4 separate regions of the Homo sapiens genome follow, and regions 2, 3 and 4 are each linked to region 1. The links come from fine-mapping of genetic effects on gene expression. A gene starts in region 1. Each other region holds a variant in brackets. All regions are shown on one strand. Distances are from middle to middle. Region 1 holds the start of ETV6 (ETS variant transcription factor 6). Region 2 overlaps ETV6 (ETS variant transcription factor 6). Region 3 overlaps ETV6 (ETS variant transcription factor 6). Region 4 overlaps ETV6 (ETS variant transcription factor 6).

The links. PIP is the estimated chance that this variant, and not a neighbour inherited with it, causes the effect.
Region 2: its variant is the best candidate, but not a certain one, in a credible set for the expression of ETV6 in whole blood (INTERVAL, PIP 0.89).
Region 3: its variant is the best candidate, but not a certain one, in a credible set for the expression of ETV6 in whole blood (TOPMed, PIP 0.52).
Region 4: its variant is the best candidate, but not a certain one, in a credible set for the expression of ETV6 in whole blood (INTERVAL, PIP 0.83).

Annotation. Positions count from the first base shown.
Region 1 is chr12:11,645,704-11,653,555 of GRCh38, reverse strand. It overlaps ETV6 (ETS variant transcription factor 6), which reads right to left and starts at 3,882. Exons shown (of 8, transcript NM_001987.5): 1 at 3,396-3,882. The coding sequence starts at 3,428. RefSeq lists enhancers at 353-402, 733-842, 4,880-4,979 and silencers at 3,530-3,689, 3,700-3,749, 3,960-4,169, 4,460-4,699.
Region 2 is chr12:11,825,532-11,833,383 of GRCh38, reverse strand. The region is part of intron 2 of ETV6 (ETS variant transcription factor 6); the gene reads right to left. Among named protein-coding and RNA genes, the nearest start is that of ETV6, 180 kb to the right of the region's middle. RefSeq lists a silencer at 1,005-1,074 and an enhancer at 2,902-3,101. The variant T/C (reference allele first, on the strand shown) is at 4,062.
Region 3 is chr12:11,804,066-11,811,917 of GRCh38, reverse strand. All of the region lies in intron 2 of ETV6 (ETS variant transcription factor 6), which reads right to left. Among named protein-coding and RNA genes, the nearest start is that of ETV6, 160 kb to the right of the region's middle. The variant G/A (reference allele first, on the strand shown) is at 4,010.
Region 4 is chr12:11,888,269-11,896,120 of GRCh38, reverse strand. It overlaps ETV6 (ETS variant transcription factor 6), which reads right to left. Exons shown (of 8, transcript NM_001987.5): 8 at 744-5,180. The coding sequence ends at 5,075. Among named protein-coding and RNA genes, the nearest start is that of BCL2L14, 180 kb to the left of the region's middle. The variant G/A (reference allele first, on the strand shown) is at 3,105.

The DNA of each region.
Region 1 (7,852 bases):
GACACCAAGATAATCATCACTAAACCCAAGGAGCCCAGAGTCCAGAAGGGGAGCTCGAAAGAGTCTCCCAGTTAGTAGCAAAATTTTAAAAACCAGATTTCCTTCTGCTATGAAAGCTGACTGATACGGACAGCAGGGAAGGAGGGGACTAGAGACACTGTGTGACTCGTTTTTGGATTCTGGTTAGTCCTGGCCCACTAACAAGCTGTGCCAAGCCTGACAAGGGACCGTGTCTGCTAGGCCACAACCACCTTCCGCTGCAACTTGGTCAAACTTAGAACTGAAGAGGTGACTTGAAGGTGAAGGCTGATGATGGAAAAGACAGCCTCTTCCTTCTTCCTGTGACCAGCACAGTCAGCCAGGCAATCCTCTTTAAAACAATTTGACTTTTTATAGAGAGTTGATCCTTTCCTTCCATTTAAACGACCCCAAATGGTCAGGAATTGAAGCATTTGAACTTCCATGACAACAGTGCCACAACCTTCAAGGGTTGTAGGACAGACCCCCCCAGGAGTGCTCGAGCACTCCTGCTTTCTGCAAGTCGCGTGTAGAGAAACAATAAGGCTCAGTGAGAGTTTCAGTGCCCTTGGAGTAGTCAACCTCTCTTCTACCGTAAAAAGTGTGTGTCTGATATTAACTTCCCCAGGCGATGGGAGCAAACTTACACAGTGCAAAAGAAACAGAAAAGCCCTTATCAGGCATTCATTGCGAGCGACCACCACATGAGCCATCTTTACAAAGGCGTCACTGATTGACCAATTCAGAAACTTTCACCTTGGAAACTCCACCCAAATCGGACACTACTCTTTTCTAGCAGAGCAGGCACTGCTCAGAAATAAACAAAGTACTTCCCTCTGTGGCTGCATCTCACCAGCCGCTGAGGAACTGTCTGCCTGCTGACCCGCTACTTGTAAGGAATGAAAGCAAGTGAGGACGGTTTCAGGAGTGGAGAGGAGGACTGGGAAAAACCTCTCCACAGTGAGAGCCTTTTGTGTCACAGGAGTTCGGTATATCAGGTTCATCAGCTCATCCTTGAAAACCTCTGACATTCGTTCTTCACTACACAGAAAAGCATATTGTTTACTGGACTCTAGAAGCAAGCAACTTGCTTGTGGGTTACCAGCAAACATTTTTTATTATGCAGTCACCGTACCACATCCCAAGGACTAAATGAAACGCAGCACACATCACCAGAACATTTCAGATGACCTGGAATAATCCCAGTCCTTGATCTCTAGTGCTTATTATTGGAACACTGAATTAAACAAACTCCATGGAAAGATACTCTTCACATACGTTCACCTAGACACATGCAGTCTAAGCAAATACATACTCGTTCCATAAAGAACGATCCAAAATAAAAGTGATTCTTTCCTTTCTGGTAAAGAACATTAAATCTATTTTAATTACATAGAAGTACACAGTAATGAAAAGAGGCACCCTGAAAGAACTGAGTTGTAAGCAATAAGGAAAAAAATGATATGCAAATTACAGACAATTTTCATGTTGCATTTAAGAACGCGTTTTGCTTGGGATTGGTTCTGTATGTGAGTAAGGCAAGGGACTGTTGTACTCTTTTTCCGACTGGAGCACAATGAAACAAACCACTCAGTAGCAGTCTGCAGCCAGCACACCACCATAAGCCCATCAAAACGGTGGGGATGCAGTATAGAAGAGGATCAAGAAACGTCACAGAAAGCATTGTTTTTTGTTGTTTTTGCCCTAAAGTTACTGATCTGTAGTTGGCAGATTTTCCTGATGTCGGGTTTATTGCCACTGAGCCAAATACAATTTATTTATTGAATATCCTACTATTTAGTTACCTCTATGTTATGAAGCGTCAAATAAATTAGATTATCTATACCGCAGGATTTTCCTGAACTCTGTGTAGAATCTAATTTATACCGCAAAAGAAACTGGTTTTGAAGTATTAATATCAAAGTACCCTAAGTTCTTTAGTGTGGCACGCCCCATGCCCACAGACATACATACTGCTACCTCCAGTTATGTACAAACACAAAAGCCTAAAAGTTCCATTAGGCATTTTTGTGAGGCAAAAACAAAGAAGCCCAAACCACCTTTTGATTTCACATTAGCCTATCCTCAAACCCATGAATATCTTTTCTGATAAGAAACACCAAAATGTGATTCTAATTATAAAAAACCTAGTAAGCACGTATGATGAACTACTGCGTTTCCCCTACACAGACTCTAATTGAAAGGCAGTGTTAAACCAGGAAGGGTTTTTCTAACTCCCCACAGACGAAGAAAACAGGTTATTTGTTCATTGTTGCTGTAGTGTCCATTCAGTGAACACACATTAAATAGGCCAAACCAAAAACAAACTTCAGCAGCTTCAGCCTCTCACAAGAGCGGAAGGCTTTCTACCTGGGTACTGGTGGAACAGCGAAATGAATAAAGTGTACAATAAATGCAGCGATGGGAAAAATAACACGGGTAGATGGATAAATCATCCTGCCTCCCAATGGTGGCAAACTTTACAACAACTTTTTAGAAGCAACAAACCGCAGCACCACAGTCTTTACAGATATATAGACATGCATACACACAACTACTGGGTAGCCCAGCAGTGTGTTTACAAACATCTACCGCCCTGCATTTACAGAGTGCTGCTTAGATAGCCTCTCTGCACTGTCAAACACAGAAGGTCATTTTGCCTGGTTGCTTAGTTCTTCCTCTCCCTCCATCACAGGAGTTTTCTACTTTGGGATTGCTCAACTTTCATATGGATCGGAGTAAAATAACTATTCAGCAACTTTATTCACCTTGGTTTTAAAAAAAAATTCATTGTGCAATGCCTAGGAAAAGCTGACACCAGGACTGTCTCTCCGACAGCGCTTGCAATTACAATCAGACGAGGGGGAAAAAAATCCTGTCTGATCAGACCCAGAGAGTCCTTTAAAAAAATAAAAAGATTCTATCGCAGTGGAAACTGAACAACTTTTTTTCTAAGACGACCACCCCTCGGGAACAAAAGTTATATTTCAGTCACATGTTGGGTGTAGGAATAGGGAGCAGGTTTTTTTTTTTTGTTTTTTGTTTTTTTTTTTTTTAAGCGCACTAATTACGGGGGTGTTTTACGGTTCTGGAGACAATCCGGGTTGCTCTGACCAATTGTGACCGGCATTTCATTGTCAAAAAGCAAGGGGGTGGGGGCCGAGGAGCCGGCAGGGGCTCGGCGGTGGGGGGGAGTAGCAAGGTTACGCTAAAGGGTACAGCAGCCACCGCGAGCTGCATCTCTTTCCCTCTCGCCCCAAATAATTTCCTGCGAACAGAGCAACTGCAACAGCCTGCTCTGAGGAGCCCAGCACGACTGCCCTGGCCGGTGCAGCTCAGGGTTTCCACCACGTAGAAGGAGGGGAGAAGATTTTTACCTTAATGCTACACTGAGCAGGAGTCTCAGACATGTCTCACAGCGAGAGAGATCAGGAAGTTCTCAGGTTTTTTCCACTTTCCTTTCCTCTCCCCAACCCAGAAAGGCTCCACGGCCAGCCAGACGCGGTCATTTAAGAAGTTTCTTCCAGCATCTCTCCCGGCAGCCGCCCCGGGGGTCTGGAGCGCGCGGGGCGGGGCGGGGCGGCCGGCGGAGTTGGGCGCGCGGGGCGGCGGGGGCGTGGGAGACGGGCCCGAGCGCGGCGGCGGGGTCTGCAGGTCGCGGCGCGGCGCGGGGACCCGGGACGCAGCCCGGCCGGCCTCCCGGTCTCTCCTCCCACCCGCAGCCGGCGCCCCCGCCCCCCGCCCTCCCGCGGCTCTCCCTCGCTCTCTCGAATGTTTTCCTTCCTGGAAGAGAGAAACTGAAAGGCAGAACTGAGAAAGCTCTTTGCTCATTGATCTTGAGAGTTTCAGTGCAGAAACTGACGTGAATTCCCAGCACTGAGCTCTGCCTCTTAAAGGAGCCACCAGGAAATAAAAGCTCGGGTTACAGCCCGGCATCGGGGAAATAAAAGCTGCGCGGGGGAGGGGCGGCCGCGGGGGCGCGGGCGGAGGAAACCCGGGTAGCGGGGCCGCGTGGGGCCGCGGCTGCGAGCGGGGCGAGCGGCGCAGCCCCCCAGGCCGGCCCCCGGTGCGGGCGCCCGCCCTCCACGCCGCGAGACCTCCCGCTGGCCGAGCCAATTTCCGGGCTTAAGGAAGACACCTTTAAAAAACGTTACATTGTGGCCCCAGACACCACAAAACAGGTTTTATTAAACTCCTCCCACCTCCCCTGGCTCCGTCTCTTGGATACATCGATGTGCACAAGGGTTTTGAAACGTTTCACTAAGCGCAGATGCAACGAAAGTAATTATCTATGAAGGGCCATTCCGGTTAGGACGCGGAATCCGAAGGAGGAAATAAAACAATAGCCTTTGTTCTGCTTCTCGACCGCTGCCTCTTTAAGAGAATCCACCAGGAAATGGGAGATCGGGTTACAGCCTGCACACGGGGAAATGTGGGGAGAGCGGGCGCCCGAGCGCGACGCCGGAGACAAAGCCGGGGCGGCCGCGCCGCAGACGCTGGGGGACCGTCGGGCGGGGGGATTCCCGGGGAAGGTGGGCGCCCCGGAAAGAGGTGGCGCCACGCGCCCGCTCGGGGATGCGGCGGCCGCGGGCGCTTCCCGAGCCGAGCACGCGCTCCGGGAAGGGAAGGCTGCAGGGCAGTTATCAAAGGCAGCTGAGTTCCTTTTCCTGACCTCCCCCTCCTGTTTCGAAATCCACTGCCCTTTTAAAGAAATAGCGGCCGCTACCAACCGAAATAGGTGACTCGACTACAAAGTTGGCAGGACGTGTTCCTGCAGATAATACCCCTCCCCAGGACCGCTTCTCTGAAACCGTCATTGGCCGGTTGATTGGATGGCCCTGGGATCCTGCAGGGGGAGGAATATTTGGTTGGAAAAGCAGTTGAGGGGGGTTAAGGCCGTTGGGGCTGAAGGGTCTAGCCCTGAGCACAAGTGATCTGATCACTCTATTATTTTTATTATTATTTACACTCTCTTAAAGTGTCCACCACAAAAAACTGAGAACATTATCATTATACTTAAATTCTAACCTTGTTAGCACATATTGGGGGTTTAATATGTGGATGTGTAATGTAAAAGGAAATTTGTTATAATTTCTTAATAGAGTAATATATTAAATATGGTATAAATATGTATATACGCATATATACCCATATATGTTACCTGCACTGGACCAGGACACATTTCCCCGAGTCTCCCCACCCTACAGATTTTTCCTACCCACTTTCCTTCACCTCTTCACATTATCAAATGTGTTGAGACTTGTACACACAATATTTTTGTTCACACATTGATCAGATCATTACGAACGAGGCTAGGGTGGGAAAGAGTGCTGTTGCTGGGATGATGGGAACTGGTGGTTGTGAGCCTCCAGGAACCTGAACAGGTTTTGTCAACTGGTAGTCCTGCCCTCTCTCCAAGAGATCTCTGTCTTGTCCACACCGACTCCTCTGCCTTTGACCACCCCCTTCTCCCCTTTAACAATTTTCTGTATTCTTTTGCTTTTTTTTTTTTTTTTTTAAGACGGAGTCTGCTATGTCGCCCAGGCTGGAGTGCAGTGGTACGATATCGGCTCACTGGAAGCTCCGCCTCCCGGGTTCACGTCATTCTCCTGCTTCAGCCTCCCGAGTAGCTGGGACTACAGGTGCCCGCCACCGCGCCCGGCTAATCTTTTTTGTATTTTTAGTAGAGACGGGGTTTCACCGTGGTCTCAATCTCCTGACCTCGTGATCCACCCACTTCGGCCTCCCAAATTGCTGGGATTACAGGCGTGAGCCACCGCGCCCGGCCTCTTTTGCTTTTCTTAATTGATGTTGCAGACATTGGTTTAGATGTCCCATTGCTAGGTTATGTCTTCCACATCACTTAGCAATGTGATCCCTGACAACACAGTCACTAAGCTTCTGTAAAATGGGGAGAAATAGTACCTAGCTCATAAGATTATCTTATTAAATAAGAAAATATATACAAATGCCTCCTTAGCAGAGAGCTGCACAATATATGTGCTCAATTCAAGTTGGCTACAATTATTATTTAACCCCAGGACTAAATTAGTTCTCGACTTTTCTTCCTAACTCCTCCTCAACGTCTACAAGTGATTCATAGAAGTAGTAGTTTGAAGTAGAATGTTTGTGGTTCCAAAGCAAAAAACATAGTTGACAACTGTAGCAAAAACTACATTTAGACCAGGGGTTGCCAATCTCTGTAAAGGGCCCAGCTGTAAATGCCTTAGTCTTTGTGGGCCAAGAGACAAAATTGAGAATGTCAGGTAGATACTTATATAACACGAAGAAAAAAAAGTCCACAGTTTTTTATTTTGTCAATTCAAAGTGTAATAATAGCAATTTTAATACAGGTATAATAATGAAAGGCATGGAATTCTTTTGGGGGGAAAGTAACATTTCACTTGGTGTTCAAAGTGTTCTTTCATAAAAATTGACTGCAGATGTTCATCTATTAATGCTGATTTTTTATGAGATTTTATGTACTTCATTTTTGAAATGTCTTTCTACCCAGACAGATACCGCCAAATACTGATACCAACCCATGAGCACATGATTTTACTTGAGTGTATTCATTGCTTAGAAGGCATTTCTAAAATTCTATTAGAATTCTATAAATTCTCTTGATATTTCCCCTTTAGCATGCCATTACATTGCAGATTAATCACTTCCAGTTGAAGGTTAAATGGAAGCTTCTCAGTTGCACAGTTAAGTAAATTTTAAATATGAAAATTTCCTTTGCACTTGCATTGAAATTCAGAAAACACTGTTGGTACTGTAGTTTGAGTTCAGAAAAACATAACTGCTGCAAATTTGTGTTGGAATGGAGATCTTGCTTCTTGTTTTAACTTTTGACAGCATGAGAAGTGTGTAAAACAGCTTGACATTATTTGTGATTCAAACAATGTTAGTTGTGTCAAAATGATTTTACTGCAGTTTAAGTTTTGCATATAAGCTCTATTTTGCCTTGTAGTTTTAGGTTAAATTCATAAAGAAACATTATTGAGTCTGTAGTAAAAGCTTATTTGCAGAGCCATTCAGTGTTCAATAACAGTGGTTGAGGGAAGTTTTTCTCATTCATTCATTTCCATTTGTCGCTTGTTTCTCTGTTCCTTGTTTTCTGAGAACTTATGGGTAAATTGGATTTTTTTCTTTCATATTCCATTTAAATTACTAGATTGTCTTTTTAGATTTTCTTCTTTATGTTAAATATGGTGGTTGCTTTAGAAATTACAATTTGCGTATGTTATTATCACAGGCTACCTTTAAATAATATTATTCTATTTTATGAATCTGTAAAAAAGTTACAATGTAATTCCATTTATCCCTCTCCCATCCTCTGTATTGTTGTGTTATATTTTACTTCTATATGTTATAAAATTCATTTTACATTGTATTTTTATGGTATTTAGAAATTTGTAAATATATGCATATAATGAATGTATTAAAGTATGTCTCTTTTTAATTTGCCCAGATATTTATCCTTTCTAGTACTTTTTTATTCCTTTTTGCAGATCTGGTTTTCCATCTGGTATCTTCCCTTTGGCCTCAAGAACTTCACTCAGCATAGCCTGTGTGCTGTTTGTTGGAGAAGTCTCTCAGCTTTTGTCTGCCTCTAAATGTCTTTAGTTCATGTTCACTTTTGAAGGGTATTTTTACTGTACGTAAAATTTTATGTTGACATTTTCTTTTCTTTCAGCACTTTAAACATGTCATTCCTCTTCTGACTTCATATTTTGCTAAAAAATCACTTGTAGTACATATTTTGGTGCCCCTGTGTACAGTGTACACTTTTTTCTGTAGCTGCTTTTAAGATCTGCTCTTTAAATTAGGT
Region 2 (7,852 bases), 180 kb before region 1:
TAACCTCTCTGTGTCTTGCTGGTGTCAACTGAAAAATGAGGACAACTTTCATCCTGTGAATTAAATATCATTGAATCATAGATAATGTACTTATACAATTTTCAGATGACATAAAACTAGTGTAGAGTAAAATTATACACATGATGATGATATGAAACACACAGGCCAATATCTGGCATAGAGCAATCACTTAAAAAACATTAGCTATTGCTTTTGTACTGTTATTGTTATAATCACCTTTATAATCTCACCCTACCTGAACATATATAGCTAGCACTTGGAACCCAACTGTAAGAATGTATATTAATTGATATTACATTTTATCTTATTATTTTTAACCATCATCCCAGCCTGCTGCAGTCTTCTCCAGATTTCCATCGATTTCTAGCATCTATACTCTGTAATTTCACGTCATCTGTGGCTTTGCTAAGCATCTGTCACCTCCACAGGTTACTGACAAAGTGCAGATCGTATAGGGCTGAGATGGGAGTACCCTGGTGACACACCAGTCACCTCCTTTTGGACGGATACTGATCAAGTTATTGACTCCTTTTGGGAAGAGTTGTTCAATGATCAATCCATCTAAATACTCTGGTTTTTGGACATTTTCCAAGCTCATCCATGAAAGCAACATCAGAAATTCAACGAAACGCCTTCCTGATATCCTGAAATACAGCAACTACAACACTTAGAGCAACCTTATTAAAGAAGATGAGGAGAGAGGATGAGGAGCAGATGGCTGGCTCCAAAGTGATAATGTCTTCCACTCGTAACATGTATGTTTGAAAATCTGTCCTGAATTTTATCTGGAAGTTCCATCAGGTTAGCTGTTTTATTTCGTACCCACATTTTCCCCAGCTTCTCTTCCTAAAATCAGGTTACCAACAGTTCCTATTCTTTTAGTACAGCTTCCATTTCCCACAACCCTGAAGGATCACTGCCAGTGGCTTATCTTTCACCCCTCTGAGTTCTCGACCCTGGGATGTCATTTGTCCGGGCCAAGAGCCTTGCATTTATTCAGAACTTAGTTTGCTTTTACAATCAATTCACCCATCTCAGGCTTCAATTCCCTTCTGTCAATGTTTGCACTACCTGTTTCAGTCTGACAATCATTCTCCTTCATGGGAGAGAGAAAGAAGTTGAACAGTTTTGGTTTCTTTGCCATTTGCTGATGTTACCCCATCCAACCCCATCAGCAGGCTGACATCATGCTTATTCTTATCCTGCTGCCCACATTTATTGTTTTCTTAAGCGTATTCCATGGTTTTCAGCTCACTTACGTTTTAAAATTCTAGAGCTCAGAAACTCTCCTTTATATGTTTCTTTTCATTAAGTTGCTTTTTCATCCATTATATACATCTTTTTAAAAATCGGAGCTCATTAGACTGGTACTCACAAAACAGTGAGAAGATAAATTGGCATCATCTCTCTGGCAAACAACTTAGTGATATTTTAAGAACCCTGTAAATGTTAACTTCTCAGAATCTACCTTAAAGAAATAACTTAGTATGTGGAAGAATCTTTCATGCACAAAGATGTCTATTGCAGTGTTATTTTTAATAATGAAAAACTAGGAACAGCAATAAGGAAATAAGTAATAGTTACTGACAATATCTATGATAGAAAATTAATGCAGCCAGTAACATGATGAAGAGTATGTATTCATATTGAAAAATAGTATGTGTACATATGTAATAATCTCAATGCATAGAAAAATACAATGAAACGTAAAAATATTCAAAGAATTGACACTCAGTAAAATTGTAGGTGATATTCCCTGTCTCCTTTTCCTTTTTTCTTTCTTATTTCTCATTCTCTATTAAGCATGTTTTACTTTTATATTTAAAAAACTATTTAAGGGCTGGGTGTGGTGGCTCACACCTGTAATCCCAGCACTTTGGGAGGCCAAGGCCGGTGGATTGCTTGAGGTCAGGAGTTTGAGACCAGCCTGGCCAACACGGTGAAACACTGTCTCTACTGAAATACAAAAATTAGCTGGGCATGGTGGCAGGCGCCTGTAATCCCAGCTACTTGGGAAGCTGAGGCAAGAGAATTGCTTGAACCCAAGAGGTGGAGTTTGCAGTGAGCCGAGATTGCACCACTGCACTCCAGCCTGGGCAACAGAGTGAGACTCTATTTCAAAACAAACAAACACACACACAGACACACACAGACACAGACACACACACACACAAACTATTTAAAAATTGAGCTAATCAGAGAATATCCCCAATATCGCCTCATCAGTTTCTTTAGTTGTCTCCCTTCCTTCTTATTCCAATAAGGGTCATATGCAGTTGATAAGTCAGGATTTCATTTTCAAGAGCAGCCCAAATGACTCTGAGTTGTGTCTCAGCATTCAGATCATGAGATCATAAATACTTTTCCCTACATTTTAAAAATTTGTCTTAAGTCAAGAAAACACATCTGTTCTTGTCTCTCATTTCCCTTCCCCAATCCTAAAATCATGTTTTTATTCTCACCCTCTGCTATCATTTCTACTTTTCCAGACAATTCCTCATTTGTCAGATTTGAGTGCAAATTAGCAATGCTCCTCAATGCATCTTCCACCTTCTGGGAGATGAAATTGTGAATTGTTAGGTACATGTGTTAAGAGTTAACATGTCCATGCATGTAGCTGAAGGGGATTTTGCAGTGATTTGCACACGGTGCCTGGCACATAACAGTCCCCAGGTTTAATGCCAGACTGTACAGCCAAAGATTTCCATTCCTAGGCAGTCCACATCTGAGCCAGCTCTGCAGTCTGTGATTGGCACCCCTCTCCTCCCCGACACATCTGATCACTTACTCCAGCTCTGGCTTTGATGGTCAGGACACTCAGCTCTGTGCAGTTCAAAACATTACCAGATGCTTCCGCATCCATGTCATGCCATCATCTATTCTGCGAGGGAGCTAAAGCTGGCACAACTGTATTTTCAGAAGAAACTGAAGTTCAGAAATCGAGGGACTTTCCCAAGGTCACAATGAACCTAAGACCAAAACTCCAGCTCCAGGCTTTCTGTATTACCCAGTGAACTTCCCCTGGGTTAAAGGAAATAATGGATGTAAAAGCCCCTTGCACTCTAAAATGCACTGTAAAAATGTTAAGGGAATGAGGAATAATAAACCATAAACTCAACTTCTCATGGCAGGCCTGGTCTAGCTGCAGATCCCGAATACTGCTCGGTGCCCACAGAGCACCTTCTGACCTCTGCTTGCCGAGGGCAGGGTTTACTTAGAGTTCTTCCCTGTGTACTCTGCCCTTCAAAAGAAAACCAAGTGTCCTCAGAGCCCTTCAAGCTGCTTCCCAGAGGCACTTTTCCGGAGACTTTTCTGCCTCCTTTCCCTTCCCCACCGGCCTGCTCTCTGCAAATCTGCTCAAAACCCCCAGGCCAGCCTTGGATGCATTCTGACAAGCTCCACATCTCACTCCTCTGGGTCTGCCTGTAATCTTGAATGTGCTATCTGACCAAAGCTGCTTTCTGCAAACAAATCCTGTCACTAGGGAATTGGAAGTTCCAAAACATTTCCTATTTCTGTCCTCAAGGTTAGCCTGTATCTCAGCACTAAGTTTCCAAGTGGAGGTCGGAAGGTTATACTCATGTCTTTCAGCCCAAAGTCCAAGAACAAGAACACTCTATGTTCATGTTCAGATCCAAAGTCACAGTCAATTCCCTCGAATGATGTTTTTTCTTATAAACTTCATTTTGTGGATTTTTCTGACTTTTATCTAGTTTTAGCTACAAACGGGTTTTTAGCAGAAAACCTGTTGACAGCAAAACTGACCCAGAGCTTGCCGCTCAGCCTCACAAACGTGACTTAGAAGAGTTCTTCTCATTTTTGCTTCTGGGTAGCAAGCCCAATGTGGTGAGAGCCATGTAGCATTTTAGATCAGACCTTGGGTTTCGCAGTCAAATTGTCCTGGGTTAAAACACCGGCTGCACCACTTACTAGCGCTGGGTTAGTTACGCGTCTGAATCTGTTTCTCCAGCGGTAAGATGGAGTCCAGAATAGTACTTACCTCTTAGGGCAAATGTGAGCATGAAATGAGGTGATCCCTA[T/C]AGAGATGTTGCACAGTGCCTGGTACAGAGCAAGTGCTCAATGCATTTTGGGGGGTTGGGTAGGACAAGGACTGGATAGTAGATGAGTTGTACTTTGTCCCGTGTCTCCAGAAGACCAAAATACTTTCAGCAGCTCCCTGGAGCTGCAGAAGCTGGAGCAAGCATTCTTGGAAGGTGCATGACGGCTCTGGCAGGAGCTATGAGGCCCAGTACAGTGCTTTGAGGAGGGGACTGAATTGTCATCTTGCAGGCTGGGAAAATGGCTCAGGTGGGGTTGCGGAAAACAGCCTGGATCAGGGAGAGGTTGGAGGAAAGAAGGCTGAAGGAGGTGCCCGCTCAGGCCCCAGGCTAGGCTGAGGCAAGTAAGACATTTGCCCCAGGAGCAAAATTTAAGGGGTACCTTTAAAAAGTTTCAGTAATCAAGATTAAGTCATGTAACGCAATATTTTAAAAATCAAAATTAATGCAGAAAATGTATGGTGACGTAAGCATCAACATTTTAATTAAAGTCCATATCAAAAAGAAAAAAGATAATGGGGAGGGGACAGCAAAAAGGGAGTGGGGAAGAGATTAGAGCAAGTACTTCTCAGCGTTAGGAAGAAGGTACAGGATTCTTTGAGAATTCAGCCAGAGTTCATAAACAAACCCCCCTTCAAAATGCACAGGCACATGGACACAAATATTTGCTTGTGATTTCAAAGCTTATAGACTACCTCAAGTTTATCCATGGATCCCTGGAGAATCCGTTTAGTATTTTTTTTAGTCTCGTGTATGCAAATAGTTCTGACAATATGTACCTGTGAGGTAATGCGAAAACCAAATCAGGTTTAAGAGAGATATATGTCTCTCCTGATATTTCAGGGAGAAAAACAGAAAAGAGAGACACGAAGGGTGCCCTCTTCTCACTTAGAAGTGGGGGTACAATGAAATGTTTGAGCTGTCATTTCTTTATTTGAAACGCACAGTCCTGACCTTAAATAGGGAATGTCCCTTCTTCAGTTATTATAGACATCATTGCTAACATATTGAAAGTTTTTCTTCATAGTAGTTAGGGTCAATCACTGCAAATAACCTTAATTTACGTACAATGAGGCAACTTGGCTATGCAAGGAGAGATACTATACAAGGATGAGTTTCTAAAGCAAAGAGGCATTAAGGCAGCATTTCCTATACTGCAGGGCAGAAAGGTCATTTTTATTATCAAACTTACTGATATGTATGCTTACAAAGAAGCCTGAGTTTAAGAAGAAAAAAAAAGTAGGAAAATAGATATTAAGAGTTGAAATGTTCCTCAAACAGATTTATTGAGAAATCGAAACTGCTGGAGGAAAGTTGGTGCAAGAATGTTTGTAATCCTCAGCAGAAATGGATGGGGTACAGAGAACATAAAGATCCTGCAGGATTTGCATGATTCACAGAACATGGATACTCTCCTGAGGGTGCCTGAATAAAGAGGGATGAAAATTCTTTCCCCTCCTGCTCTTTTAAACCGCACACGGACCATCTCTGGTGCCCGGCACAGTCTGCAGAACATTCCTGTGCAAAGTGTAACCAGAGTAAAACTCATTCTCATTCTGAACTGGGACCTGATCTGTCCGTCACTTGCATGGAGGAGGCTTGGCTTTGTGTGGCTCAGCTGTGCCTGTTCCCAGCCCTCTCGGGTGTCTCTATTCTCCTGCGAAATTTTAAAAAGCCTCTTCTCAGGATGGAGACAGTCCTGATAATCACTGAATTCCAGGAGGAGGAGGTGGAGGTGGACAGGAGGTGTGGGGGCAGGGCGCGGGGGCTGGGAGAAGGGAGTGCGAAAGAGGTGTTGAACTTTTACATGAACAGACCTCAGAAAATACACATAGGGACCCAAAGGCAAATCTGACCTACAGCACCTCCAAAGCATGGCTTTTCTAGAACATGCTGTTTTTTAAGGAGAATTCCACTGCACCCCCTTCTTCCTTGTCCTCTTCCCTGGCTCTTTGGAGAGTGCTTCCAAGTGCTTTCAAAGGCCCGGTTGGTTGCCTTTGGGTGTCGAATCTACCCTCCACCGAAAGGCTGTCTGGGCTGCTGCTGATTCAGCATTTCGCGGGGCAGACTGCTGTGACACACAGGCAGGATGAAATCATTTTAACAGCGTTGCTGACGCCTCATGAAACAAACAAACAAAAAAAAACAAACTTGGAGAAGCAACTTCTATTTAAAGATAATTGTGTTGCATTTGTGTGTGTGTGTGTGTGTGTGTGTGTGTGTGTGTGTGTGTGAGACAGACTTCTCTCTATTCTATTCTATCTCATCCCCTTATTCCTCCTTTCTGAGGACATTCATACGGAAATGGCTTTTATAGACCTATCAATAAAAAAGCTGTAATCTTTTTTCTCACCAGTTATTAATATATTCCCTAGTATTAGAGTTGTAAAGGTTACTAATCCCCTGGCTTAAGATGGTCACTTGGAGTCAGGAAAGCTAAACACCACCACAAAGCGAACCCCGTCTCCCCTTCCAGGGCCACAGATATGTAACTGGATGTCTCATGCTTTGTCCCTGGGCTTATCTGAGACTCCAAGGCTCATACTGGGAGGCCCTCCCTTGCTGCAGAACACTTTTCTCCTTGGCTCTGTCACCCCACCTGGGATTTTACATTATTCATTCGTTTGGATGAAAGCATGAAGATCTCTGTACCAGAGGAAGCAGGCAAAAGGAAAATGATAAATCAATACAGGCTGTTCACACTTAGCTTTGGTGGGTAGTCAGATGAATGAGTGGGGAGGAATGAGTCAGGTGACCCTTGAGTTTTAAGGGCAGACTCCCAAGTAGGTGGCAGGGGTCCTGGAGGCAGGATGGTAGGAGTGACAAGAGGTAGGAGCCCTCACTCCCTTCGGCCCGTCATCATTCATGGCTTACGATTCTTCAAAGGTGCTTTTCATTCTGTGCTGGAAAAGGTATGAGTGTTAACAATATAGATGTGAATATTCTGAGTTCTGGAAAGAGGCCGATGTCTGTTTTTTAACTTTGACATGGGAGTCTGGAAAATCTGTGAAGAGCATGAGTGGCTCATCATGGATGGAGCAAGTAATGCTAATCCACCAAGTGCAAAAATGCTCCCCTGAGGTTGGGCAGAGCGTAAGATGGGGTGAGGTCTCTGGGCGGTCTGCAGGCTGGCCTCCTGCTACCCTACTATTTGTAAAAGCATGCTGTTGGCCAGGTCCTGTGGCTCACACTTGTAATCTCAGCACTTTGGGAAGCCAATGTGAGAGGACTGCTTGAGGCCAGGAGTTCGAGACCAGCCTGGGCAACATAGCAAGAGCCCCATCTCCTTGAAAAACAAAATAAATTAGCCAGGTGTGGTAGTGCATGCCTGAAGTCCCAGCTACTCAGAAGGTTGAGGTGGGAGAATTGCTTCAGCCTAGGAGTGGCTGCAGTGAGCTATGATTATACCACTGCACTCCAGCCTGGGTGACAGAATGAGGCTCTGACTTTAAAAAAAAAAAAAAAAAAAAAGGCATGCTTTCTACTGTTGTTGGCAAGAATTGCTAACTTAATGGAAATATTTAAAATCTCTCTTAACCACGTTATAATAAAATGAAACAACGAAATTCAAATCCTGTTTTTGTCACTTACTAGCTCAGTGACTGGAGATGGCTGAATGTTGGCTGCCAAATAGAAATGTCCGTGTCCTAATCCCCAGAACCTGTGAATAAGACCTAATTTGAGAATGGCTCTTTGCAGACGTCATTAAGTTAAGGATCTCAAGATTATGCAGGTGGGCCCCAAATTCAATGACAGGTGTCCTTATATGGAAA
Region 3 (7,852 bases), 160 kb before region 1:
CTTTTCCCTTCTAGGTGTCATAAAATAGCAGGACCAGCACAGGTTTTGGACCAGGCAGCTCTGGTTTAAATCCCAGCTCTGTTCCTGACTGGCCTAGGACCTGGTCAGGTCATCTAGTCTCCTGTCTTCATTTCCTCATCTGTAGAAACTGGATCCCAACTCACAGGGATTGTTGTGAAAATTTTACGTGTGAAAAGTGCTGGACCTTAGCAGGCACTCAGAAATGTTATTTTGCTTCGTTCCAACCAAATCATCCCCTTTCCCATCCCTTCATGATCTACACATCCCTGCTTCATCTCACCACCACCATCATCACTAAAACAAGCATCCAGGAAGGGATTTAAAAATGCTAAATGCTCTGGTGAAATGACCACCAAGAGCTTAATGAGCCATCTCCCTGGTCTACATGTCTTTCTGCAAAAATCCATGCTCAAGGAGTAAACTGCTAATGGTAGAAATCCAGGCACCCAAGGAAGGGCTGGGAAGTGTTTCGAAGGCAGCGAGTCCTTTCTGGAAATCTGAAACCAGACAGATAAGCAGATAGCTGCAGTGGCCAGGTCACCATAGCATATTCCAAAAGACACTGCTTCTTGGAATTATCACTGGCCTTTGCTAAACAGCCTTTCCTTTTCCTATTGATTGCCAAGCTTTATATAAACAGAGCATTTCTCATTTTTAGTTAGATTCGAAATGAGTCCGGTAATCTAGATTCCACTAGAGCATGTGGTAAAAGCAGAAAGACTGGTTGAGGCTGAGCTCCTGTTATAAGCAATATCCGGGCAATGATTTGAGTTAGAGAAGACAAAAAACACAGGGGGGAAAAACCCTGAAAAGAATCAATTATTTGCTGTACCACCACTCTGAAAGTGGTTTGAGGCTTTGTTTTAATAAATGTCATGTATTTAAGAGTTTAAAGAACTTTCTGGACATTGGAGGTGTTTAAAAATTGGAATTGGAGGTGTTTAAAAAAAAAAGAGCTGCCTGTGAAACAGTGAGATTCCCATTGTTAGAGGTATCCAAGGGAAGGTGGGTGGCCATCGCTCAGTGATGTCATATTTGGAATAGAGGCAGAGTGTGAGGCTGGAATAGGTGACCTGGATCATCCATCTAACCCCAAGTCCTACCATAAATCTATGAAAGCAGCAGCAAACAAAGAGATAATAATAGTTTCAAATCTTTCAGAAGGTGTAGTTATTATTAAAGATGGACCCAATCCACCTTTCCAGGTTAATCCTAATCAGGAACAGAGAGGAAAATCTGACCTGTGGACTTCACTAATTGTGATAGTCAGACATCTTTTAGATTGGATTTTGCCAACTTGAATCTCAAGAGACCACAGGTATTTTTTATTTCAGTGTGGTTTCTCTTGCATTAATTCACATTTATACTTTTTGCCCTCCATGATATTTAGGAACCATGGATCATGGCACACAGATGCTTGGTTCTGAGCTGAGGGGCCATTTGTACTCACACATGCACCCTCCATACCTAAGCCACTCCCAGCTCTTTCAAGGTCTTCGAAATGCCTTTGGATTGCTGGTCTTTTGTGCTCTTTCTGAAATAAGGAAGTGCTTTTCTTCACGGGTTTACATTCAAGGGCTTTCTACACGAGCTCTCAAGTTGGACTTCTACTTGGACTTGAAAGTCCATCTAGAAAGCCCATGAACATAAACCCACTTCCAACCCCTCTGTATATTCTCACTCTAGGACACGACAGGGATTAGGAGAAAAGTGGGTTGGAATTCACTACTCATACTCAGGACCAGCTCACAGAGGTCTCAAGTAAAATGCTCCATTCCAGCCAGGTGCGGTGGCTCACGCCTGTAATCCCAGCACTTTGGGAGGTTGAAGTGGGCGGATCACGAGGTCAGGAGACTGAGACCATCCTAGCTAACATGGTGAAACCCTGTCTCTCCTAAAAATACAAAAAATTAGCTGGGCGTTGTGGTGCGTGCCTGTAGTCCCAGCTACTCAGGAGGCTGAGGCAGGAGAATTGCTTGAATCTGGGAGGCGGAAGTTGCAGTGAGCTGAGATCACGCCACTGCACTCCAGCCTGGGTGACACAGCAAGACTCTCTCCAAAAAAAAAAAAAAAAAAAAAAAAAAGCAGAAGCTCTATTCCCTCCCCATTTTCCAAGCAATAGCCAAGATGAAGGTTTTATGGTGGGCAGGGAAACTGGGAGGGTAGATGTGCATATGGTTTAATTATGGATTAAGGGACACCTGCAGACATTGATCCCTCTCAGCCGAAAAAAGGATGCAGCAGGAAGTAAACTACGAATAAAAAGCTGGTTTTACTGAATCAAGTATGTATCTCCTGGCTTCCCCATTTTGGTAAAATAATTTAAAACCACACATGGAAGAAGACAAATATACAGTTCGAGGTAATTATAAACATGTACCTTAAGTCAAGACACATTAATGTTTTGCAAATGATCCATTATTCTGGACTATCCATATCATTCTCCTCTTTATTAGAAGAGGAAATCAATAGCTGATAATACGTTCCTTTAGCTATGGCTAAATAGATCTTGAACTTCATTCCTATTTTACTTACTTTCATTCCTCCCTTCTACCATCTCCTTTTTTCCTCTTGTCTTCAGTTCTCTTGTTTTTCCTATATTCATTTTGCATCCTTCCTTCTCGTTTTATTGTACATTTTTTCTTCCTCCTTCTTATCCTTTTTTTCCTCTGTTTCATCATGCCATTATCTATGACCTCTCTTTTGCTCACTTCCTATCTTTTTTTTTTTTGACACAGGGTCTCCCTGTGTCACCCAGGCTGGAGTGCAGTGGCACGATCACGGCTCACCACAGCCTTAACCTCCTGAGCGCAGGTCATTCTCCCACCTCATGCCTCCCAAGAAGCTGGGACTACAGGCGCGTGCCATCACACCCAGCTAATTTTTGTATTTTTTTGTAGAGATAGGGTTTTGCCGTGTTGGCCAGGCTCGTCTCCAACTCCTGACCTCAAGTGATCTGCCCACCTTGGCCTCCCAAAGTGCTGGGATTACAGGTGTGAGCCACCACACATGGCCCTTGTCATTTTTAAGTAGGTCATCCTGTCATCAATGAATTCCCTGAAATCCCATTTTTCTATTCATCCTTTCTCTTCCAAGCACTCCTTTGTCAGAGGTACCTCACTTTCTTCTCTTAGTTTCTCTCAGTACTTTATAGCCTGCTATTACCCTCTTTGGTGTAGCTTTACTTTGCTTTCCAGTACAGTCATTCCTCTGCATACACAAGGGATTGGCTCCAGGACCCCCCGCCCAGATACCAAAATCCAAGGATGCTCAAATCCCTTATATAAAATGGTGTATATTTGCATATAACCTATGTGCATCCTCCTGTATATTTTAAATCATCTCTAGATTACTTGTAACGAATACAATGTAAATGCTATCTAAATAGTTGTTATATGCTATTCTGAAAGTCTGTATTTTTTTATTGTTGCATTTGTGGGTTTTTTTTTTTTGTTTTTTGTTTTTCTGAATATTTTCTATCTGTGGCTGGATGGAATCACGGATGTGCAACTCACGGATATGAAGGGCAGACTGTATACCTTGTCAGGTACTTTTTTCTTTTTATTGTATCCCATGGGGGAAATGGATGGTAGATTGGTGGAGGTGGCTAGAATTGTAAAGAAAAATATGAAATTCACATGAAGGCTGGAGTTACTCACATGACAACAACAGCTTATGGGGCTCAATTCTACTGCCCTTGCGTCTGTCACACAGTTGAGGTTTTGGAATGAACTACGTATGCCATCCTTGTTATCAAATATTTGAGAACAATTAGCTTTGCTGGCAAAAAATGACTTACATTGAGAATTCTAGGAATGCCTTGTAGGTATTCTTTTTCAAGTGAATTTTATGTTTCTTTTTTATGATTTCATTGATTTATGGGTGGATGTATTGCTGATGATCATTGGGGAAGGGGTCTGCAGGGAATTAAAGACAAAAACGTATGCTCCTACTACTTTAGAAGACTATGCTAAATGCAAAAAACATA[G/A]GTCAAGCAACTACTGGTTTCTCAAGTTCAAGAAGTAATTCCTATTGTTACCAGGAGAAAGGGTGATTTGATACCACCTACATTCTTTTTTCCAAAAAGGAAATAAAATTTGTCAGTCCAATCAAACATCCATTGCTCTAGTAACAGACACCTCTAGACAGGTGCATCCTGTTTCATTGAAAAGGTGGTTCATTTACATATAACCACTTAGGTAAAGCCTCCCTCTGTAAATAGGACATGTTGCTGCCTGCCAGTAAGTAAAGACTAAAGTGGGTTATTTGGTTAGCCTTTACATATTATTTTATTATGAGACTGCCCTTTCCCTTCTTACCCACTTTTCAACAGGCTCAGAAATGAAAAAAACTTTCATTTTTGAGTTTTCACAGCACAGTTGCAAACTCAGCCTTGAGCCTCACCTGCTCACTGTCTAATGAGCCCTGAAAACTTAAAGATTCCTGCCCAGGGTTACCGTTTTCTGACCGTGCATGTATTCATTTAAAGTCAATGTGGATCTGTCTGTACTTTAATTCACTCTACCAATTTTCTCTACCAGTACACATTTCTGCATGTGTTAAATAAAAAGTGATGTTGGCGTATACTACCAAAATCCACCACTATTTAGTGTGCATTTATTCTCTTTGAAATTCTTTAAGATCAAAATTAAGTAGACGCCTGCTTCTGCTACAATTTGCAATTGAAAGTGGTTTCTACTGAGCTGTAAAAAGCAATGTAGTTACATCCGATCACAATCAATCTCATGCAAACCACACGGTCTTTTCATGGATAACTTTACAGCCTAAACATACTTGGCAAACTGACGTTTGTGACCCTCAGAATCTGTCTGCATCTTTAAAACCTAGAATGAATTCTAGAAACCCAAGATAATCTTCAATGTGACAATTCTGTTTGACTGATTTAATCGGTGGAACACCATCAGTGAGACCTATTAAAAGTCACTGCTTTCTTTTAAGAAATGCTTAGCTTGTTCGGGATTGTCAGATCATGAGTTCATGCTGATTTCCAGGCTCAAAGGGTGAGGTCACAGAGTTGAGCTCCGCAGGATTTTTGGTGCTGTCCGGCAAAGGTGTGAGGACTACCATGTACGTAAGTGCCAATAAATGCAGGGGCCTGAAACTTGCTATTTATCCCTACACAGAACATGCAACTCTCTGGCCAGTTCTTTAAAATAATAAATATGTTACAATCAAACAGAAATGTATGAATGCTTGAAAGTTCCTTGAGGACGAGCCGCCTCTTTAATATTTTATTGTATATTATCTACAGTGTCTAGCACATTGCTAGACACATTGTCAGGAAACTTTTTAAACATGAAAACCTAAAAATGGCAGATTCATCATCAATGCATTTACCTCCATGTGTAACTAACAAAGGTGTGTAGAACTTTCCATCTTTCCTTGGTGCCTGCTTCCTCTTTAGTTCCCAACTACCAACTGATAAGCTTCTCAGTTAGCCTTCATGCAGCATTCATTTTGCAGTATAGCTAGAACACTATCAAATGCTTATCCTTTAACCTCTAATTGCCTGTTACTAGACTTTTGGGCCCAGAGCAATGCCTCTCAATTGTTTCTTACTTTGTACCTTTCACTCAGTTGATCACAAAGATTATTCCTCAACCTGACATCTTGATTATACTGTTCTTCTCCTAGGGGGCTACAGTGACTTGTCACTGTCCAACAAGGATGGCATACGTAGTTCATTCCAAAACCTCAACTGTGTGACAGACGCAAGAGCAATAGAATTGGGCCCCATAAGCTGTTGTTGTCATATGAGTAACTCCAGCCTTCATGTGAATTTCATATTTTTCTTTACAATTCTAGCCACCTCCACCAATCTACCATCCATTTCCCCCATGGGATACAATAAAAAGAAAAAAGTACCTGACAAGGTATACAGTCTGCCCTTCATATCCATGAGTTGAGCAAACAAATATGACAGTCTTAAGTCAATATAGTGTGTATATGATGTCATGCAATGCACACAGCTCTGTGAGGTAGATATTACTGTGCCTGGTTTATAAAAGAACCCAGAGTTTACGAGGTCCAAGGTTACTGAGGTAACACAGACACGGATGCTTGTTGCTCTTAGGATAAAGATCAAAATCCTTAACGTGACTGTCTTGTTCTACCTCACCATCTGCAATCCTCACCAAAGCAATGTGTCACTCTGCTTTTCCACAGCAAATTCAATGAATGCCAGTTGGGCTGGGCTTTCCATTCCCTGTAGAACAAATCCTCTTCCAGTCTCAGGGCCTTCACAGGCTCTGTTCCCCTCCCCAGAAATAATCCTACCTTCTTCTTTGCCCAATTAACTCCTACTTAGCTTTCAAGTCTCCTCTTAAATGTATGCGACACACCAGACCAGATTTCTGTATTTTATGCTTTCAAAGCATCCTGTACTGCTACATCAATGCTTTTACCTCCACATGTAACTACATTGATGAGACATATCTTGTCTATCCCTGCTCCTGTCTGACGTCCCACTAAACCAGATAGAGGAATAAAAAAGGTACAAACCCACAAGACAACAGAATGGGAGAGGAAACAATGGCAGTTGAGGGAGGTGCACAAAATTTTGGAAGCTGGAACAGACGGACAATTGGTATCTGACTCAGCTGAGCAGAAAATCTTAACTCAATCTGCCTGCAGGGGGAGATACCAATAAACAAACTCGTTTTCCTACCAGAACTTCATAAAACCTCAGAAACTGGGGGTTCCAAGTGCCTCTGAAGGCAGGCAGGGAACAGAGAAGACTAATAAAGCATCTGTGGCATGGCTGTATTCCACCCTCCCCCAGCCCAGCAACCTGCACCTCCTTGCAGATGAAAGGACATTTCCCTTGCTGGAATCAGGATGAATCTGAGAACGCCAAGTTCAGGAGGGAGCAAGGGTGAGCAGCTCTGGAATATAGGGGAACTCAGTGGAAATCTTCATGGTAAAAGCTCAAGTGCCATCATATATTGACTCTTTCTAAGGAGGAGCCCACAGGATTTCTTTTTGGACAAACTTGCCTTCCCAAAAGAAAAGACTCTGGAGTCTCCCATGAGACAGCCAGGCCCATCCAATTACCCTACAGGTGGACCCACTGGCATCATACCCCAGCTGTGCACAAGAATGGCCATTTTGAATAGATACCTAAGGGTCACCATCCAGTGTTTTAAAAAATTACATGTCAGGTGGTGAAAATTGCCAAGAAGAAAAATAGTGCAGGATAAAGGTGATGGAGAGTGAAGGAAGGTGTCGTTTGGATAATGCTGTTGGGGAAGCTTCTCTAAGGAGGTGATATTTAAGCAGAGGCCTGGATAAGGTGAGGGACTCTAACATGAGAGTATCTGGAGAAACAGCTTCATAGGCAGAAGGGCAGCAAGTGCAAATGCCCTGAGGTAGAACATAAACTTGTGTGTTCCAAGAATAGCAAAAAGATCAGGGTGGCTGAAGAGGAACTAGCAGAACACAAGGTGATGGAGGATGAGGGTGGAGAGGTTGACGAGATTTACAAATTTCAGATCACACAGGGCCTGGCAGTTCATACTGAGAACTCAGAAGGTTTCCAAATGAAACTGGAAGCCAGTGGAGGTTTTGGCACAGGGAAGTAACAGTCTGATTTATCTTACAACAGATTACTCTGGATGCTGTGTGGGCAATGTGCTCTCTGGCTAGTGTGAATTCCTTGGTAGACACTTATCTCCCCTATTAAACTGTAAGCAACATGAAGGCAGGGGTCATATCTGTTTTGGTCACTGATATATCCCAGCACTTCAGAGTATGCAGTAAACACCTGATAAAAATCTTTTGAAAGAATTTACAGAATAGCAAAAAAATAGAA
Region 4 (7,852 bases), 240 kb before region 1:
GGGTTAACCTAAAGACAAAAGTAAACTAAGAACATTTTCTGAGACTGCTGATTTCTTAGACATTTTGAACCTCCGCCCAATTTGCTCAACAGCAATGCATTTGCTTCCTCTTCCATTCTTCCCCTTGTTTCCACCCACTTCTGATGGCAGATAGTTCTGGTCAAGTGCAGAATGTTTGATCTTGAACTCCCAAGTGCCCACTGGTTGGTGGGTGGCTCTGTTGGTCAGGTTGGCTGGGACATTCTGAGCATGTGGGCTGGCTCTGAGCTGTGTGATGACCTTCTAGGTCATTACAGTCCTGTATTTAGTCATAGGATCTATCCCAGCCCTTACGCCTTCATCACCTGGTAGGCTTAGACCTCTGATCTCAGCAGATTTAAGGGGCAATTCTATTGTGTGAGGACCTGGCATTGCTAAGTTCTCAGTGAGCTAATAAACCTTCACCACAGCATGGGACCCAAGCATCTCTGATCACGGTTCCTCTTGGTAATTCTTCCACCTGTGGCAGCTGCTCAGCTTGGAATGGTTCACTCTGACCTTTCCGGTACCACTTGTCTAAAGATCGCCTGCAGACTGCCCTGCAGCGGAGACTTGCTGCCAGAGAAAAACCATGATTGCCCTTTATACCATAATTGAGTGGAGACAGGATTTACCTCATCGGAGCACCTTGTCTGACTCCATTTCATATTATTAAAAACAGAGACTCTGGACTTCATGGTTTTTTTTTTTTTATAAAAAATTTATTGAGATGATGTAATTATAGGCTTTTCTTTAAAAATTATTTGCAACTCACTGGCCCTGAGAAAAGGCATTTTTTTTTGTTTTTTTTTTCTTTTTTGTTACATTCATTTGATTCAGTCCCTTATAAACCCCACACCTCATAAACAAGAGATTAGAAACTAAACAAAAAGGGGGGCGGGGAAGGAAATTCTAGAGTCGTTCTGGTTTGCAGGTGGTTGCGGTCACAAAGAGAAATCATCAAGAATGTTCACTTGGCATGTGTGAAAGATTCAGGGGGTCTGCAGCTGTTTAGTGTTGATGCAGTTGGGTCAAAAGAGTATCAGGTTAGTCTTCTGTGGGTTTTAGGGAGGGATTATGGTGCCTCCCTCCCACCCCACTGGCTTCCTTGTGTCACAGCCTTTATTTCTACTCCGAAGAGGAGCAGGAGAGAGTGAACAGCCTCTAACTAGCACCAAATGCTTGGGCAAAGAAAACTGCCCCTTTTTCTTGGTGTGTTTTCCCAAATCTTTTATCTTCAGTTTCCTGGGTGGGAATGAGCCACACAGGGTGAGCCCAGGCTGGATCCTGAGCCTAATTCCATTCTTGGCATGCTGTCTGCTCCTAGGGCAAGTCACTTCACCTCCCTGACACCCAGGTTTCTTTTTTGCAAAAGGGAGTTCCTATTTCAAAAATGTATTCAGACTTGGAGCCTAGGCAGTGAAAGGTGGGAATGGTGGTTACTTCATCATTTCGGTAAATTGTCACAGCCATTTGAATTTCAGCTAAAGCGACATTCTCATTTGGACAAGAGATCAGTATCAAAAGACATTGGATCAGAGGGTTCCAAACATACTGGTGAAAGGAGAAAATCCATTGGTCTATTATTCCTCTTTTTCTGTGGGGATACCCTCATCTCCCTAAAGGATTTGGAACATTGGTGATGCCACCTTAAGCAAAACCAAGTCGCCCTGGGTCAAGATCTTAGAGTTCATGTTACCTTCAACATAGCCAGTCTAGCCAATTACCAGTGCTTTCTTCTGATAGAGAGGAGACTGCCTGGCTAGCTTGAGATGTAGGAATGAGAACTTCAAGACCCAAGTGAGAATGCACATCCATCACACGGCAGGGCTCCTTTGCATTTTCCTCTCCTGACTTCAGATTTGTCTCCTGACAACACCCCTAGTACTTAGTGTTGAAATGAGTCACGCCGGGTGGATTAGGCAGGTACAATATAAACTCTGAAAGCAGGGATTATGGCTGATTGAGCTTTGGGTCCCTCAGTGTCCAGCAGGTGCTTCATCAAGGTTTGCTAACTGAATCTGAAATCTTTAGGGTCTGCAGGGTGTAAATACTGTATCCAGGTGCTGGCACTACCCGGGTTTTCTCATAAAGAACAAATGAAGAGGACATTTGCAGTTAGGGGAATTACGAAATCCTTATTGGTAGTACAGATTGATATCCCTTATCTGAAATGCTTGGGACCAGAAGTGTTCTGGGTCTCGGATTTTTAAATGTTTTTTTTTGTATCCTGGAATATTTGTGTATGTGTGTGTGTGTGTATATATATATATATATATATATATATATATATATATATATATATATAAAATGAGAGATCTTGGGGATGGACACAAAGTCTAAACACAAAATTCATTTATGGCTCATATATACTTTATACACATAGCCTGAAGGTAATTTTATGATATTTGAAATCATTTTCTATATAAAACAGTTTGTGTACATTGAACCATAAGAAAGCAAATGTGTTTGTTAGGTGTGGAATTTTCCACTCATGGTGTCATAGCGTTCAGGAAGGTTTGGATTTTGGGGCATTTGGGGGTTTTAACTGTTCAGATTAGGGATGCTCAACCTGTATCTGAATGGGAAATAAAGACTATATTGGAATGAGCGCCTTCTATTTCTTCTTCAAGTGGCTGAAGGTATCATCCTAAGTCTAACATATTCTCCTGGGATATTGCTTTAAATATAGAAATGCTTGGGGCAAAAGGGAATTTCCCTCCATAATTCAACTGTTAAGATTCTTTGAACAGTAAGAGACTGAGTTCTTGCACTTGGGTGAAGAGGCCAGACTGAGAGGCTCTAATCCTAGCAACATCATGCCCTGGTCTCTGATTTCATATTCATACAGAGGGATGCAGTAAAAAATCCCTTTCTCTCCATTCTTAAAATCAGTGGCTTTCACAATACATCAGGTATTTGGCTTAATCTCTGCATTTCAGATAGAATACCAGTCATCTTAGAGGCTGAAATAGGGATCACCATGTCCTACTGAATGCTCTCAAAAGACACCTGCAGCGTGCTGAGATCCAGCAGAATCTCATCACCATTCAAGCAGACTGAGACCCACTCGCCTCATATAGAAG[G/A]TCCCTGACCTCCCGGAAGGTTGAATGGTGGGGCGCCTGTGACAGTAGGAGTGGGCTGGCTATGCCCGTGTGTCTACCTGTGCTCTGATAAGAGGCAGGGACAGAGCAAGGCTGAAGAGAGCCTTGATCAGCTCCTCAATTCCAGTGTCCTTGAACCATAGTCCATCTGTTTGCACCCTAGGTTGGTGTCCTTGTCAGTAAGGCCGAGGGAAAATTCCTCTTGCCTGTGTGACCCAAACTCTACATGTCTGACTCAACTCAGAAAAAGCTGGGGAGAAGCCCAGGGGTCTGGTAACTTCACCTGGGAGCTGCTGCTGAGGGCACATATGTATCCCGGAGGAGCTGTGAGTTTCTCCCCCAACTGAGTAGAGGAAACAGAGGGGAACAAGGAGGGGGTGCTTTGTAAGGCAGGTGTAATCTGGATTAAAAGAAATTGTACTCCAAATATTGGATTTCTGAGACCTATATTGGAAGAGTCAATTTAGATGGCTAGAAAAGGAAAAAAAAAAAAAATCTAAAACAGCTTTCAAAAATACTAAGAAGTGGCACTACCCTCATTTTACAAGATACCATCGATCTTATTTTGAGGTGAAAAAGAGCCACAAATGGGTCCTTTCTGAGACACAGCTATGAAAGAAAGAAAAAATAATGTATCCGAGGAATTTCCTGTCTGCCCAGGCTGGGCACACACTGATTGCAACTGAGACTGCCCTCTGGGATCCTCCGTCTCCAAAGCTCTGTGTCCAGTGGAGACCAGGAAACTTTAAAAAAGGTTAGGAATTGAAAAAAAAAAAAAAAAAAAAAAATCAGGTGAGGGCATGAAACTGACCACAAGATGGCCTTTGGAATGGAGCAGAGAGGAGCTTTTCTTTCTCACTAGCCTCTGTTACCTGCTTTGGAAAAATAAATCCCCACTGCAGAATATTTTTGCCCAGTTTCTGGACTGCTGGGCCTGTGTGGTCTTTTCATATTTTCCACTTTGCAGCGCTGCGCTCCCAAGCTAATCCCAAGCTGCCGAGGCCTTCCAAATAACTTGGACAGCCTTCCATCCTTATCTTACGCCTTAGACACATGGTTCTCACAGCCATCTCAGGGGCGGCTCTCTGGACTAGCATGTATCTGTCTGCAGCACAGCAGCATCTGTGATGATTTTGGCCTCCCTCAGATGGGTGGCCCAATGCTGGGATGCGGGTTTGATTCTGTGCTGCTGGCCACAAAGCACCCGGGTCACTGATTCTGTTTAGGTGCCAACAATCCCCAAGACTCTCCAAGAGGCTGAACTCTGTCAGAAGGCATCTGAATCTCAACTGCAGGCAGGGCGGGAGGACAGAGGGGACCAAGGGAAGAACAGAGCAAGAGAGAGAAAAAGAGAGCTCTCCTTTTCATTTTATCTTTTTTAAAAGCATTTTTTTTTTTCAGCCAAGACCCAACAGTAACAGGAACAGACCTGATCCACGTGGCAGGAAAAAGAGGAACCTGAACCCCTCTGCAAGTATTCTCTTTCCTGACCAGCTGGGCTTGCCGCACTTTGTGAGATTTGCAAAAAATATATATATAATAGATATATATTTCCATAGGAAAACAACATCAGATGTCTTCCCCTAGATGAACGATGAAGAGTCAAACTGCAGGTTCTTAAAACAAAAACAAAAACAAAAACACCATGATACTAACAACGGTGGAAGGGTGAGGGTGAGGAATTACAGATGGAGAGATTCCAAATCAGAAGGAAACGTGACATGGAGTCCCAGGCTCATGCCCTCCGCCAGAATTCCAGCCCCGCCTGTGCTGGGTAGTTTGTCTAAGGTGCTCCAGGGTCCCTCTTGGTCTGCAAGAGAAGTGTCCCTGCCATTTCTGGGTCGCTTCCTTTTCCACTCTCCTCAGCCCGCCTGCTCCGTCACACTTCCAGCAATCCTGGTGGGCAGGGGTTCCCTGGGCTGCTGGCCCGCTGAGGTGGACTGTTGGTTCCTTCAGCATTCATCTTCTTGGTATATTTGTTCATCCAGCTCCTGGGACTCTAGGTGCTCCAGACGGTCTGTTCGGCCACTCATGATTTCATCTGGGGTTTTCATAAACCTTTGGAAGAAGAAGTGGAGGAGGTAAGAGATTCCATTTTCCTAAAGCTGTCTTCACTCTGAACTCTAGCCTGTATATAAAGAAAGACTCCATCATCTTATACAGCTGGAGAGCTACTGAACCCCGAGATTAATGTTAACTTAGTGCAAATTAGGAAAAGGTACTCCTTTCTCTGACTGTCTAAAAAGTGGTAAAATGCTTATTTAAAAAGACTAGGGCCAGGCATGGTAGCTCATGCATATAATCCTAGTGCTTTGGGAGGCCAAGTTGGGAAGATAACTTGAACCTAGGAGTTTGAGACCAGCTTGGGCAACATAGCGAGACCCCACCTCTACCAAAAAAAAAAAAATCTGGGTACGGTGGTGTGCACCTGTAGTCCTAGCTACTTGGGAGGCTGAGGTGGGAGAATCCCTTAAGCTCAGGAGGTTAAGGCTGCAGTCAGCTATGATCATGCTACTGCACTCTAACTTGGGTGACAAAGTGAAATCCTAATTATTGGAAAAAAAAAAAAAAGTCTAGGCTGTCTGTGACGTAGTGAGCACCCTTTGGGATCACGTGGTGCATTAATGCATGACCACACGAGAAAGCCTTGGTCCAGACCATGTATATATGTTCTTTCTTTTACAGAATTAGATTTTACAGACTCATGAGAGCTGTATATCCACTTCCATTCCAGACTGTGAGCCCAGGAAATGGTATTCAAAACTTACTTAAATTTCAAAGGATATAGTTAAATGTTAAGTGAAAAATGCTGACAATAGGACAACTTAGTGGAGCTTCTGGAAAATTGGAAGGGCAAAAAAAAAAAAAAAAAAATCTTTTACAATGTTATCACTGATTCACCCAAAATGCCAGCAATGAACCCTCTTTAGTCTGTCTACCTTTGCAACTGGGGTGTACAGCAAGCCTCATCTTCCTGTTCAATGGGTTAAACTGGAAGTGACATCAGTGACATGTTTTGACCATAATTTACATGGCTCAGGAAGGCAGCCTGGTTGCAGATGTTCCACCTACACTGTAGGAGCACCCGTTCCAGTCCCCTTCTGTGCCTGCACACCTTTCTCTCCCCATATACTCTGCCCTGCGCCACTATCTTAGAGCTTACATTTTCTCTCATTCCTCCACATGCAAAAGCCTAAAATGACCACTCATCAAGTCAAAGGTGCATCCTTTGCTCTGCTCATCGGGTCTTTCTGCCATCTTTACCTAGGAAGCTCTTATTTTCCACTGTTCATCAGTATGAACCCAATGCAGTCTAGCGGTCTTGGCTCTTGTATAAATCATGGCGCATGCTCTCCCATGTATCTTTAGCTTTTCCCTTATCTGGAGCCCTCCTGACTCTTCTCACGAGTTGAGTCCTACTCATTCTTTGTGTTCTGTCTCCTCATCAAAGAGCTGCTTAATGGCACTAGTCCATGATTTCAACACTTAAACCTCCATCTTCTTCAACACTCAAACATCTTGTAAAGAGTATCTACAATTCAACACCTCACTTGATTACATACTAGGTCTTATACCAAGAAACCTTCATTTTGTGGCAAGTCTGGCTTCTAACATTCATTTCCTCAAAATGGACTAATCTCTCCCTCACTAATAGCACTATTCCTTTCTCTTACTGAAAATCTTTTATTGGAAGCCTATCAATCTTCTGGCTACTACTGCTTTTCCTGCTCATTACTGGCAAACTTCTCCAGCAGTATGATCTGTAGCATCTGCAGTTTTTCTCCTCTTTTATCCCCTAACTAAAATTTCTCCCTCCACATCCGAAGTCAATAAAGAGCCCCTCTAAGCCAACTCCACAGATGTCCTATGCTTGGCCCCCCAAACCACCCCTTTCTTCTTTTGACGACTTTCCCATATTAAGCTTCTGATATTCCACACCAGGCTGTCAATAAGCATTAACTGAAAGGTTTAATATAGAATGATAAAAAATAGAATCCTCTACCTTCTAGGAGCTTATAATCTAGTTGTCGGGGAGAAGGACTTGACACATAAAACTACAGGCTGAGCATCCCTAATCCAAACACTGGAAACACTTCTGGTCCCAAGCATTCCAGATGAGGGATACTCAACCTGTATTCAAAATATAAATCCTGTAGTCGCTCTAGCTACTCCGGAGGCTGAGGCAGGAGGATGGCTTGAGCCCAGAGTTTGAGGCTTCAGTGAGCTATGACCACACCACTGCACTCTAGCCTGGGCAACAGAGTGAGACCCTGTCTCTAGAAAAACAAACAAGTTGGCCAGGCACAGTGGCTCACATCTGTAATTCAAGCACTTTGGGAGGCCAAGGTGGGCAGATCACTTGAAGCCAGGAGTTTGAGACAAGAGTGGCCAACATGGCGAAACCCTGTCTCCACTAAAAATACAAAAATTAGTCAGGTGTGGTGGCAGGCACCTGTAATTCCAGCTACTATTAGCTACGGCATGATAATTATGAGAATTGCTTAAATTCAGGAGGTGGAGGTTCCAGTGAGTCGAGATTGTGCCACTGCACTGTAGCCTGGGTGACAGAACAAGGCTCTGTCTAAAAAAAAAAAAAAAAGAAAAGAAAAGAAAAGAAAAAGCAAATTGTAGTGTAGTTAAGGGCTCCAGGAAACCCAGGTGATGATGGAAGACGACAGCTATGTGTGTTGGAGCAGCTGAAGAAGGCCTCATTCAGGGCAACAGACTTG